Linked DNA regions of Homo sapiens: region 2 is linked to region 1. The links come from fine-mapping of genetic effects on gene expression. A gene starts in region 1. The other region holds a variant in brackets. All regions are shown on one strand. Distances are from middle to middle.

Region 1 (5,379 bases):
TGAACTCGGGAGCCGGAGCTTGCAGTGAGCCAAGATTGCGCCACTGCACTCCAGCCTGGGCGACAGAGCGAGACTCTGTCTCAAAAAAAAAAAAAAAAAAAAGAGTAACACTCTAACTTCTCCTAAAATAAAATCCATCTGTTTGCTTTATATCTATTTTCAATAATTTGAGAAACGAACACCCAATTCTGGGTGAGGGGTGGTAGTGAGGCTGGACATGGTGTTTCCTGTTTGTTTTAGCACACACCAGGCCCAGTGCCACAGGAAAAAACAAAATTCCAAGAAAGGATTGGGGAGGCCGCTTTTCATGTGACTACTGCCTGCCTGTCAGCGCTAGCCTCTTCTGACTCTAAATTACAAGTGGAAGAAAGCACGTTAGAAACCCACAGAACTGGCCCGGCGCGGTGGTTCAGGTCTGTAATCCCAGCACTTTGGGAGGCCGAGGCAGGCGGACCACGAGGTCAGGAGATCGAGACCATCCTGGCTAACAGGGTGAAACCCCGTCTCTACTAAAAAAAGAGAAAAAAATTAGCCGGGCATGGTGGCGGGCGCCTGTAGTCCCAGCTGCTCGGGAGGCTGAGGCAGGAGAATGGCGTGAACCCGGGAGGCGGAGCTTGCAGTGAGCCGAGATCGCGCCACTGCACTCCAGGCTGGGTGACAGAGCGAGACTCAGTCTCAAAAAAAAAAAAAAAAAAAAAAAAAAAAGAAACCCATAGAACTGACTGGGGGATGGGGCACTTGCCTGCCTTCTTTATCAGTGTATCCCTCAACGGAATCACTGTTTATTTTTTTATTTTTTGAGAGGGAGTCTTGCTGTGTCGCCCAGGCTGGAGTGCAGTGGCACGATCTAGGCTCACTGTAACCTCCGCCTCCTGGATTCAAGCAATTCTCCCTGCCTCAGCCTCCGGAGTAGCTGGGATTACAGGTGCCCTCCACCACGCCCAGCTAATTTTTGTATTATTTAGTAGAGACAGGGTTTTGCCATGTTGGCCAGGCTGGTGTTGAACTCCTGACCTCAGGTGATCCGCCTGCCTTGGCCTCCCCAAGTGCTGGGATTACAGGCTCAGTGAGCCACCAATCCCGGCCCCAAATCGACTGTTTTAGGGAGAGCAAACTGAGACATGCCATTTATTGAACGCTCTTTTATATCTTCCTCGGTGCGGGGTGTTTTTCCAATTATTAACTATTTAATCTTCACAAGCTCACGACAGCCATTCGTAACCTAATTTTGCAGATAAGGAGCTAGACACTCATTTGGGGGGGAGAAGAGGAGGACTGGAGTTCAGAAAGTGCATTTGATGCTCTTATCCTGGAGGCTGGAGCTAGTTCACCTCCCTGGAGAACAGCTTTTGGGAATCCCGTTTGAAATTGCCGCTCAAGGCCAGCTCGGCATCCAGCCTAGGAATTGGAGGATTTTGGAGAATCCCCTTAGGGGGAAATGTTTAAAAGTGCAAAGTGAATAGTAGAAGCCCCTCTCCTCGTCACTAGGGGTACATTTGCCGTTTTCTTATCAACAGCCTCTCAAGTACAAGCATCTGGGACAAGAACTAGAACCGTGCTTGGGGCAGCCCCCACGTCCTCTCGGGAACAGGGGTGGAGCGCTGGCGGGAGTGGCTGAGGGCGGCCCGCCGCCGACACTGTGTGCAGGAAGCGGGCGCTTTGTCTGCTCTCCCACCGCGGAGAACACGAGGCGGAGGCGCGCCCCAGCTGGCCACACGCTGCCCAGGGCCGGCGTCGGTCAAGAGCCCTCTCTTCAAGCAGGATTAAGAGGGAACCAAGGGGCTGGCAGAGGGGCCTCAGAAGCTCCTGGGCGAGGCCTGAGCCCGTGGGTCTCGACACTAAAATCTGGCGAGCTCCCTGCGCGTCCGCAAAGATTTTGGAGCTCTGAAGAGCCCGGCGACGCCTGCGCTGGCCAGGCGCCGTGCCCACGGGAGGCGCCGTCCTCTTTGTAACTCGAGCAGACCCTGGCGGGCCAGTTGCTATGGCAATGTTCCTCGCTCTGCTCGGTGAGGCCGGGAGGTAGGCGGGCCTTGGCGGACGTCACCCACATTCGGCTTTGGGGAGCCGCCCCACCCCCAACTAATTGTTTGCCAGAAAGGAACCGTAGGATAGATGCTTTGTGAGACATCTACGGGGCCATGTTAGAACAGAAAGTCGCGACAGCCTCTTTCTCCGTCAGCCTCTTCACAAATCCCTTCGTGCCAACGATTTTAACGGTCCTTCAAAGCCAGGAGGAGGGGGCGTGGTAATTCGAGGGGTTTGTTCGAAGGGCCACGCCCTTTCCTCGGCCTTTGGATTTTTCCAGGCCGCGCCCACGGCGGGGGGGTGGGGGGGGGCGCTAGTTCTAGACCACGCCCCTTCCTTGTTCGCTCGGAAAGAGGACCAAAATGGAGGAGTAAGAATCATGATTAAATTGAGCGAGCGCAACTAATCACGCGAAGAGGGCCGCAGGCGGGCCGTCTTCCGCAAGCGTGCTTCCAGGCCTCCACTCCCCACCTATTCGGCGGCACCCTGTTACTTCTGCTCCTGCGCGCTGCTTCCCGCGACCTCACAGGCAGAGCGAACACGCACGGAGTCGCAGGGGCGCGCAAAGGGGGAGGAGCGGGCGTGACCAGGCGCGCGCGCGCGTCTGGAGTGACTCTAGAGAGCAGGCGAGTCGGGCGGATCGGGTGGGTAGAGTGGTGCCGTCCGGTTGTTTGGTGGGAGGCACGTAAGACCGCTCTGGGCACGGGGGCGCTCACCTCACTGGCTCGTTCGGTTCTAGGAGCAGATCCGGGGTAGAGGGAAAAGAGCTCCGGGCCAGGGGCTGCCGTCGCCGCCGTCGGGGAGTCAGCCCGCCAGCCCGCCAGCTCGTCAGCCCGCCAGCCAGCGCTTCGCGGGCCCTGTCGGTCCCGGTAAGCGGGCCTGCGCTTACCGGAAAGAGGAGCGTAAGATGAAAGAGTGTGAGAGACCATTGGGGGTCTGTAGGGGGAAGGGGAGTGGGGGCGTGTGTAAGGGGCAGGGTGTGTGAGGAGGAGAGGAACCCCAGCAAAGAGTAGTAATAATAATGGCCACCGTCACACGATAATATTCGAGTAATATGTGCGGGGACTTTACAAAGCATCTCATATGCTTCATTTTAACTTCTACTCCAATCCTCCGAGGTGCGTACTGTTATCAAACCCATTTTACAAGATAGGAAAACCGAGGCACGAAATAGATTAAGTGGCTTATGCAAGGACACACGACTACTACGTGGCCTGGCCTGGCTTCGAACTTAGTTATCTTAGTCCTAAGGCCCGTAATTTTAACTTTGCTTTACCAAACAAAAACAGAAGAAGAATGGCGTGTCAGAAGGAGGAGGACTGAGTGTGATTTGAAGTGGAAGGATGATGATAAACGAGAAGAGAATGATGATGGGAGACGGAGTAGTGGGGAGGAGGACCTGAATTTGGAATCTTGCGGGCCTCCCCCTTCTAAATCGCCGCCTCTTCCTTAGTTCTTGCGGCCCCATAACTTTTTCTTGGTGTTCTATGGCTTTATGAATGGAGGAGCCAACTCACAGACCTGGGCCATTCGGGTGGTTTTAAGAAGTTTGAACTGCGGTTCAATCCAGGGCAGTGCCTTGAGACACTGTTTGGAGGTAAGGGAGGGTCAGAGGATCCTCTTAAACGCTGCTGCTATTTATTTCTTCAAACGTGCCACTTCCTTTTCTATCATATCTATGCACGGCAAAGCCTTTGTTCAGTCCTCTAGAATAAGGAAGTGATGTTTATTGTTTCCTTGTACACTTGGGCTTAAACGAACAAAATCAGACTCAACGTTTCTTTTCCCGAGCAAGGCCTTGATTGCTTGCAGAGAAAACTTTCCTGTGGCTTTATCATTAGTTGCCCTTCAGAGCTTTCCTGTGTAAATAAGAAGCTATGTTTTGGAGAAGTTTACACCGTAGATGAACGGGAGCGATCTGAACATACTGCACTGCAGGTCAACACAGAGCAGGGACTTCAGTAATTCATAGGTGTGAGTGTGTTTGTGAAAACCTTTCCTTCTTGCACAGTTTTCTGTGTAGCTCATGTGGGAGTCAAGTTTTTAAGTCAGCCCGTGAGGCAAACATTGTATGTAATAAAAATTAACCCTTAAAAATTCCTAGGAAGGTGCAACGCTTGAGATTAGCATCCTGTTTCTGACTACATCCTGGACGGTTTTTCCTTCAGTTTTGAAACTTGTTACTGTTGCTTTGGTTGTAACCCAGATAAGTAATTAGATTACCTTTAGGGGCTGTGTTGTGCAAATAAGCATATTTGAAAGCCATAGAGTTGTGATGCGCTGTGAGATGCTTGCCCTGAGGAGGCTTAAAAGGAGGAAGACAAACCCCTATCTTAGGCTCATTTTGGAGCATGTGCTTACAAAGTGGAAAGTGGCAGGCAGAATTGCTGGTATGATGATGATGATGATGATGATTTTTTTGAGACGTGCTCTTGCTCAGTCGCTGAGGCTGGAATGCAGTGGCGTAATCACAGCTCACTGCTGCAGCCTTGACTTCCTGGGGCTCAAGTGATCCTCCCAGCTCAGTCTCCTGAGTAGCTGGGACTGCAGGCACACACTACCATGCCTGGCTAAGTTTTTGTACTTTTTGTAGAGACGGGGTCTCACTTTGTTGCCCAGGCTGGTCTCGAACTCCTGGCTCAAGTGATTCTGCAGTCTCAGCCTCTCAAAAGTGCTGGGATTACAGGTGTGAGCCACTGCCCTTATCCTGCTGGTATTTAAGTTGCTATTTTATTTTATTTTTTGGCCAGCATATGCAGTAATTTGACTTGCTAAATTAAATGTGCATAGTGCGATTCCTCTTTAATTTTTGAGTGGCACTACATTCAGGGGCTTGCAAGCTATTGTTTACTTCCCCACAGATCCTAGCTAACTTTGGAGCAAAAATGGCTTACATATTTTTGCCAACTGTCTGGCTTCGGCAGTCCCCATATATATGCCAGATATGTATAACAGTGGTTAGCTTTTTAAAAACCAATTCTCTTTTAAATGGAAGTTAAAGGCGTCTTTTGGTTGTGTGGGGTTTTTTGTTGTTGTTGCTTTTGCTTTTACGGAAACATCTCTCAAAAACTCAGGAGTGATACACCCACTTCCTCCAAAGTAGTTATGGTTATGTTTGAAATGACACCAAAAATGAAGGGTATTATTTCAGTTAGGGAAATAAGGAAGTACCACCGATTTAACATTATATGGGTATAGAAAATGGTTTTAAGGCCTTTTGCAGGGGAGAAATCTTAAGCAAGTTTAGGAATCTAAAATTCTGAGTCGAAACATTTTCTGAATTATGGTCAGATAGTGTAATTTACTCCACATTCATTCTGAACTTCTCTCTTTTCCTGATCTTTATTGTTCTTT
Region 2 (5,344 bases), 110 kb after region 1:
CAAGATTTTGGGATTACAGGCGTGAGCCACTGTGCCTGCCCTGAAAATATTGGCAATATTTTAAATTCATTACACCTATTGGGTATTATCTATAGAAAAACACAGGTTGTCTTCATTTTTGAGATATCTTAATGTATTCTTTCATTCAAAAAGTATTTGAGTACTTTCTGTGTGCATACTATCCACATTAAATAGGTGATGTTATATCTTTTGTGTCATTTTAAAACATTTAACACTTGTAGTTCTTTGACAGTAGTATTTCTTTGGAAGAATGCATACATTGTTCTTCTGAAGTATAATAATACTGTGTATACCATTAATATTATATGTACTTGAAAAACTTTGAAACTTATTTCAGAATTTGAGCAGATTTACCAGAGACCTCTGTATTGAAAAAATGATATTAAGTAGCAGATGATGTATTTCAAAATTATTTCTGTTTCTATGGATCATGAACTTTTGGGGCAATACAAAAAGGGTATAAGTTTGGTTGAGGAGGTGACTTTTACAGATGAAACACAGATGCTTATAAAGACAGCATATGATTTGGGACCAAAAAGAGTAATACAGACAAATGGTATTGTTGGAGTAGAGAAGAAAAGGTCAATATGGGTTAGAATAGTCGTGGAGACTTTCTAGAAAAAATTGGCATGTGAAGATAGGCTTTTGGGAGTCTGGAGGAATGCTCTTCCAGGAGAAGAGCAGATTTTTAAAGTGGGGTGGCCATACATGCAGAGGCACATAGGTTGGAATAAGCAGTAATAGTGTAGTACAATGAGGAGAACAGTGTGAAGGAAGTAGAAGTTTGACCTCGAGTAGATAAAATGGGAAGGGTAGATTGGGCCTATATTCCAGAGAACTGAACATGGCAGGCTGTGTATTTGGTTCAAACTATATCAAAGAGGTTTGGGTAAGAGATTTATGTTATTAAGATAGTGTTTTAAAAGTATTAACAATAAGCGGTAGTTTTGAAATTGTGCTCTGTGGGGTGTTTAGCAGTGGGACCCTTGATATCTTGGTCACCACTATATCCTTGGAGCCCAGGACAGAGCCTGGTACCCAGGAGGAACTAAAAAATGTTTGTTGAGTGAATGAATGGCAGAGTTTTGGGTCTTCCTTGACCCACGTTTCAATAGGAGCAGATCAGCATTACAGTGTTATATATATCAGGCTTCTACATATTGTTTCATTTTACTTGAAATGATTCCATATACAAAAGCAGTTTGAAACCCCTAAATATGGACTTAGTGGAGGAGAGATTGGAGGAGAGGAACCAGGAAACAGTTTGGCAACTATGTTCTAAGTCCTGATTTCATTTACACCTCAGGGTGGCTGTGTTGGGTATTCCCATTACGGTGTATTAAAGAATCTTAGGATGTTTCAGAAAAATTAATGTTTTTGTTTTGACATAAAGAAATGATGGCATCATGGCTTTAAGATATGCAGATGATCTTTTATGGCTTTAAGATGAAATCATGACTGACAGTTAGCAGGCATTGAGCTTCTGCTTTTGTGCAGATCTCTGTAAGTTTGTGTTTTGGGGGAGATAGAAGGGAAATGGGAGCCGACGTAGACCGTGATGGGGTTGATCATTGTGATCTAGTGATCCATTGAGTATTTGGAAATTGGTGCTCAAGTTGGATAGAGAAATGATTTTGGATAGAAGCAGCTATCACATTTGTAAAATGCTTTTTAGAAGTTTTCTGGTCTCACTGTTCTTATTTGTAGGTTTCCTCTAGACAGGTTGATCCAGGGGACGCGCCGTGATGGGGTTTCCTTATAAAGTGATTTGTGTAATGCTGCTTTCTCTGGAAATTTGTAAACTCATTTTTTCAGTGCCCACTAAATGAAGTTAATAAAAGGGCAGTAGGTCTTTCCCTATCTCACTTAGACCCTAGGCAGTTTTCACTTTCATTCTTGGCTTTCTCTTTGGCAAAGCTAGGAAGCTTCTGCTGAAACCCACTTCACTAGAGGATATCGTAGTTAGAGAGTTGTCAAGTGCATACTTTGGTATAGTCCCTATATTTATAAAGTATGTCACAGTAAGTGTATAAGAATGATGAGTGTTGAAATGGATAATTTGATATGTATTCTGTAGATTTTACCTTTTTAAAAGGCTTATTAACTAAACAAGTAGCTGACTAAATACATTCAGAAAATAGTAGAAGGTAGATGGCTACTACTCTGACTTATTGTGGGTGAACAGGTGAACAGTTCTTCTTATGTACTATTTTTTTTTTTTTTTTGAGATGGAGTCTTGCACTGTCACCCGGGCTGGTGTGCAGTGGTGGATCTTGGCTCGCTGCAACCTCTGCCTCTCGGGTTCAAGCGATTCTCTTGCCTCAGCCTCCCAAGTAGCTAGGATTACAGGTGCCCACCACCACAACTGGCTAATTTTTTGTATTTTTAATGGAGATGGGGTTTCACTATGTTGGCCAAGGTTAAACTCCTGACCTTGTGGTGATCCGCCCGCCTTGGCCTCCCAAAGTGCTGAGATTACAGGTGTGAGCCACCGCGCCTGGCCCTTACATGCTATTTAAAAGATTTCTTTACACTTTCAAGGTCAAATTTTGATATACAGAATGGGGGAGGGGAGCTGAAGGGGCCGTTGTGCCAGAGTTCCTAAAACTGGCTGTCAGTCAGAATTTCTGGGGAGAGTTGGGGTACGGGTGTTTGCCCAGGATGTAATTTCCAAGGCCCACCCCAGATATACTGAATTAGAATCCACAGAGGTGAGGTCTCAGCATCTGCATTTTAATTACATTCCCTAGGTTAGTCTGATGTAGCTTGTCAGAGAACCAGCATTTGGGAGCCATTGACTCCAGTGGCTTCTCATCACAATTAGAATAAAATAAAAAACTCCTTGCCTGAGCCTACAGGACCTTGTGTAATCTTGCCCTAGCTTTATCTCTAATCTCTTTTCCTTGTTTGTGCTTCTCTTCCCCTTGCTTACTATGCTTCAGCATGGTAGTCTTCTTTCTTTTCCTAAAACAAGCCGAGTGCATTCCCACCATTGGGCCTTTGCACTTGCTGTTTCCTCTGCCTGGAATACCCTGTCCCTAGATATTCAAATAGATGATTCATTCTGCTCTTAGATCAAATGTCTCTTTCTCAGGGATGCCTCTTGACACTCCCAGTCTGAAGTCCCTTACACCCCATCATTGTCTGTCATCTCATTCTGATTTATTCACAGCACTTGTCACTAGCTGAAATTATCATTTTATTTTAC[G/A]TCTTTCTTCTCCAGAATGTAAACTGCTTGGAGGCAGGGGCCTTGCCAGTCTTGTGCACTCTTACTTCTCCAACACTAGAATAGTGCCTGGTCCTTAGTTAGCATTCAGGAGATAGTTGTTTTGAGACAAGCCTGCTCTAGCCAACCAGTGAGCCCATGTAATCTCAGAATCCAGTCAAGGAAAGGACAGAAATTGCTCAGCTGATCAGGCTTGTGGATAACACTCATTTCCTGTAATTCTCTTTTTCTTCCTGTTTAGCTGAGTCCACCTCAGGACGAGGCCAGTGCCTGAAACGCATCCGCTACCATGGCAGAGGTCGCTTTGGGATCATGGAGAAGGTTTATTGCCATTATTTTGTGAAGTTGGTGGAAGGGCCCCCACCTCCACCTGAGCCACCAAAGACGGCAGTTGCCCATGCCAAAGAGTATATTCAGCAGCTTCGCAGCCGGACCATCGTTCACACTCTATGATGAGGAGATTCAGACTCCACAGTGTATATATTTTGCCATTTATTTTCTAAAAATAAACAAAAATTGAAGGCAAATGCTTTTTATGATTTCTCATTGAATTATTGAAACAGTGTATAACTGCTAGTTGTAAATGAATATTTATAAGGCTTTGCCCATTTCTTTTGAGCCTCTGGGCATATTTGTATGCATTTGCGACTTGGAAGGGGAAATCAGCTTTAAACATAGTAACAGACTATATTTCAAAAGGCTTTTGGAGTAACTTTGAAAGGGAATGTTAACTTTCCAACTAGTGTCCTGCAGGTGGCTGTTTTGATACTGGACTTGAATACAGTGTTATGAGGTAAGAAAATTGCTTTTATTTCACTTAATTTTCTCTTGGGACCATGGGAAGTTAGAGTGGCTGCATGTTGTTTCATTACAGTATTTTAGGGTGTTCAGTGGTACCGTTTTTCCTTTCACTGTTGGCACAGGCCAGTGAGTCAAAAATTATATTTTCCTTTACTGTTTTAGCAGTAACTCGAAACTACAGGAGTTTATTAGATATACGAATCTAAAACTCCAAAAACCTTTAACTTTGAAAATTTTCTTTTGGTTAAGCAAAGCCTGTTTTTATTTCTTCTTCCAACAGTGCTTTATATTGTTTGGATATCTTGTTTAGGATTGATTTATTTTTCAGGGTAAATTCAATTACTGAGAGAGGAATTGAACCAATCTCAGCATTGCATTCTAAAATGGGGCAGTAGGTGGCACTCAACCTTTTATTAGCAGAAAATTGTTAGTTTCAAATTAGAGTGTTCAACACTGCTTCCCTCTCATTCATACACGTCTTCATTAAGAAGAAGTACTCTTTGTCTACAGCCCTAGTCCAACTTTTGCATGCAAAAGAAGAATCGAGGATGCTTGCTTGTTAATGCAGACTTCTGGGCCCCACCCCAATGATTCAATTCACTAGGTCTTATGGGGGGCTGGTTTCAGAAATCTATGTTTTAAACAAACACTTCCAGGTAATTCTGTTGTAGGGGACTACGCTTTGAGAATACGGCTTTAGGAGAATGAAAAAATGTAGTTTTATTGCCATGTTTTAAGATGGCATTAATAATAGTTACTGTTTACTGGGAACTTGTTATTTGCAAGCTCTGTGCTAGTATTTTACATAATTCTTCACAACATCCTGAAAATGTAGCTTTTGTTTTACCACTTTACAAAGGAATAAACCGAAGCACACAGAATTCAAATAACTATCACAAGTCACACAGCATGTAAATATTGGGGCTATGATTGAAAGGTTTCTAAAGTAGCTGGTTCTGCATACCTTTTGAGTATACAGCTGGGTTTTTGTGTCTCTCCAGTTAACCTAATGCATGGGTAAAAAGACATCAGGGGTCAGTGGAATAAACCAAGGTGTAGGACAGATTCATTCTGGGTCCTAAGCTGTTGTAGCATGGAGTCAGGGAAATAACACTGGAATATTAAAAGGTAACCTTCATTCTAGTCTGTGCATTCTCATTAGCCAGAAAGAAGACTGGATAGGTCTCTTCCCTTGCTGGCCTCCATTTCATTCATTTATGAAACAAGAGACTCAATGTTCTCTGTAGAAAACCTTTTTTAGAATCACTTGAAGAATTTGTTTAAAAATGCAAATTC

Alleles and levels. Alleles are on the strand shown, and positions count from the first base shown. SD is a standard deviation of normalised expression in the study named.
As copies of A replace G in region 2, the expression in lung of the gene that starts at base 2,753 in region 1 goes down (moderate effect, 0.56 SD a copy in GTEx).

The links. PIP is the estimated chance that this variant, and not a neighbour inherited with it, causes the effect. A credible set is the group of variants that fine-mapping cannot tell apart.
Region 2: its variant is the best candidate, but not a certain one, in a credible set for the expression of CNOT8 in lung (GTEx, PIP 0.63).

What each region holds. Positions count from the first base shown.
Region 1 is chr5:154,855,875-154,861,253 of GRCh38, forward strand. CNOT8 (CCR4-NOT transcription complex subunit 8) reads left to right here and starts at 2,753. Exons shown (of 7, transcript NM_001301073.2): 1 at 2,753-2,894. RefSeq lists enhancers at 1,547-2,048, 2,049-2,552, 2,428-2,597, 2,553-3,055, 3,559-4,061 and silencers at 2,798-2,897, 2,958-3,017.
Region 2 is chr5:154,963,198-154,968,541 of GRCh38, forward strand. It overlaps MRPL22 (mitochondrial ribosomal protein L22), which reads left to right. Exons shown (of 7, transcript NM_014180.4): 7 at 3,489-5,344. The coding sequence ends at 3,700. Among named protein-coding and RNA genes, the nearest start is that of MRPL22, 25 kb to the left of the region's middle. The variant G/A (reference allele first, on the strand shown) is at 3,230.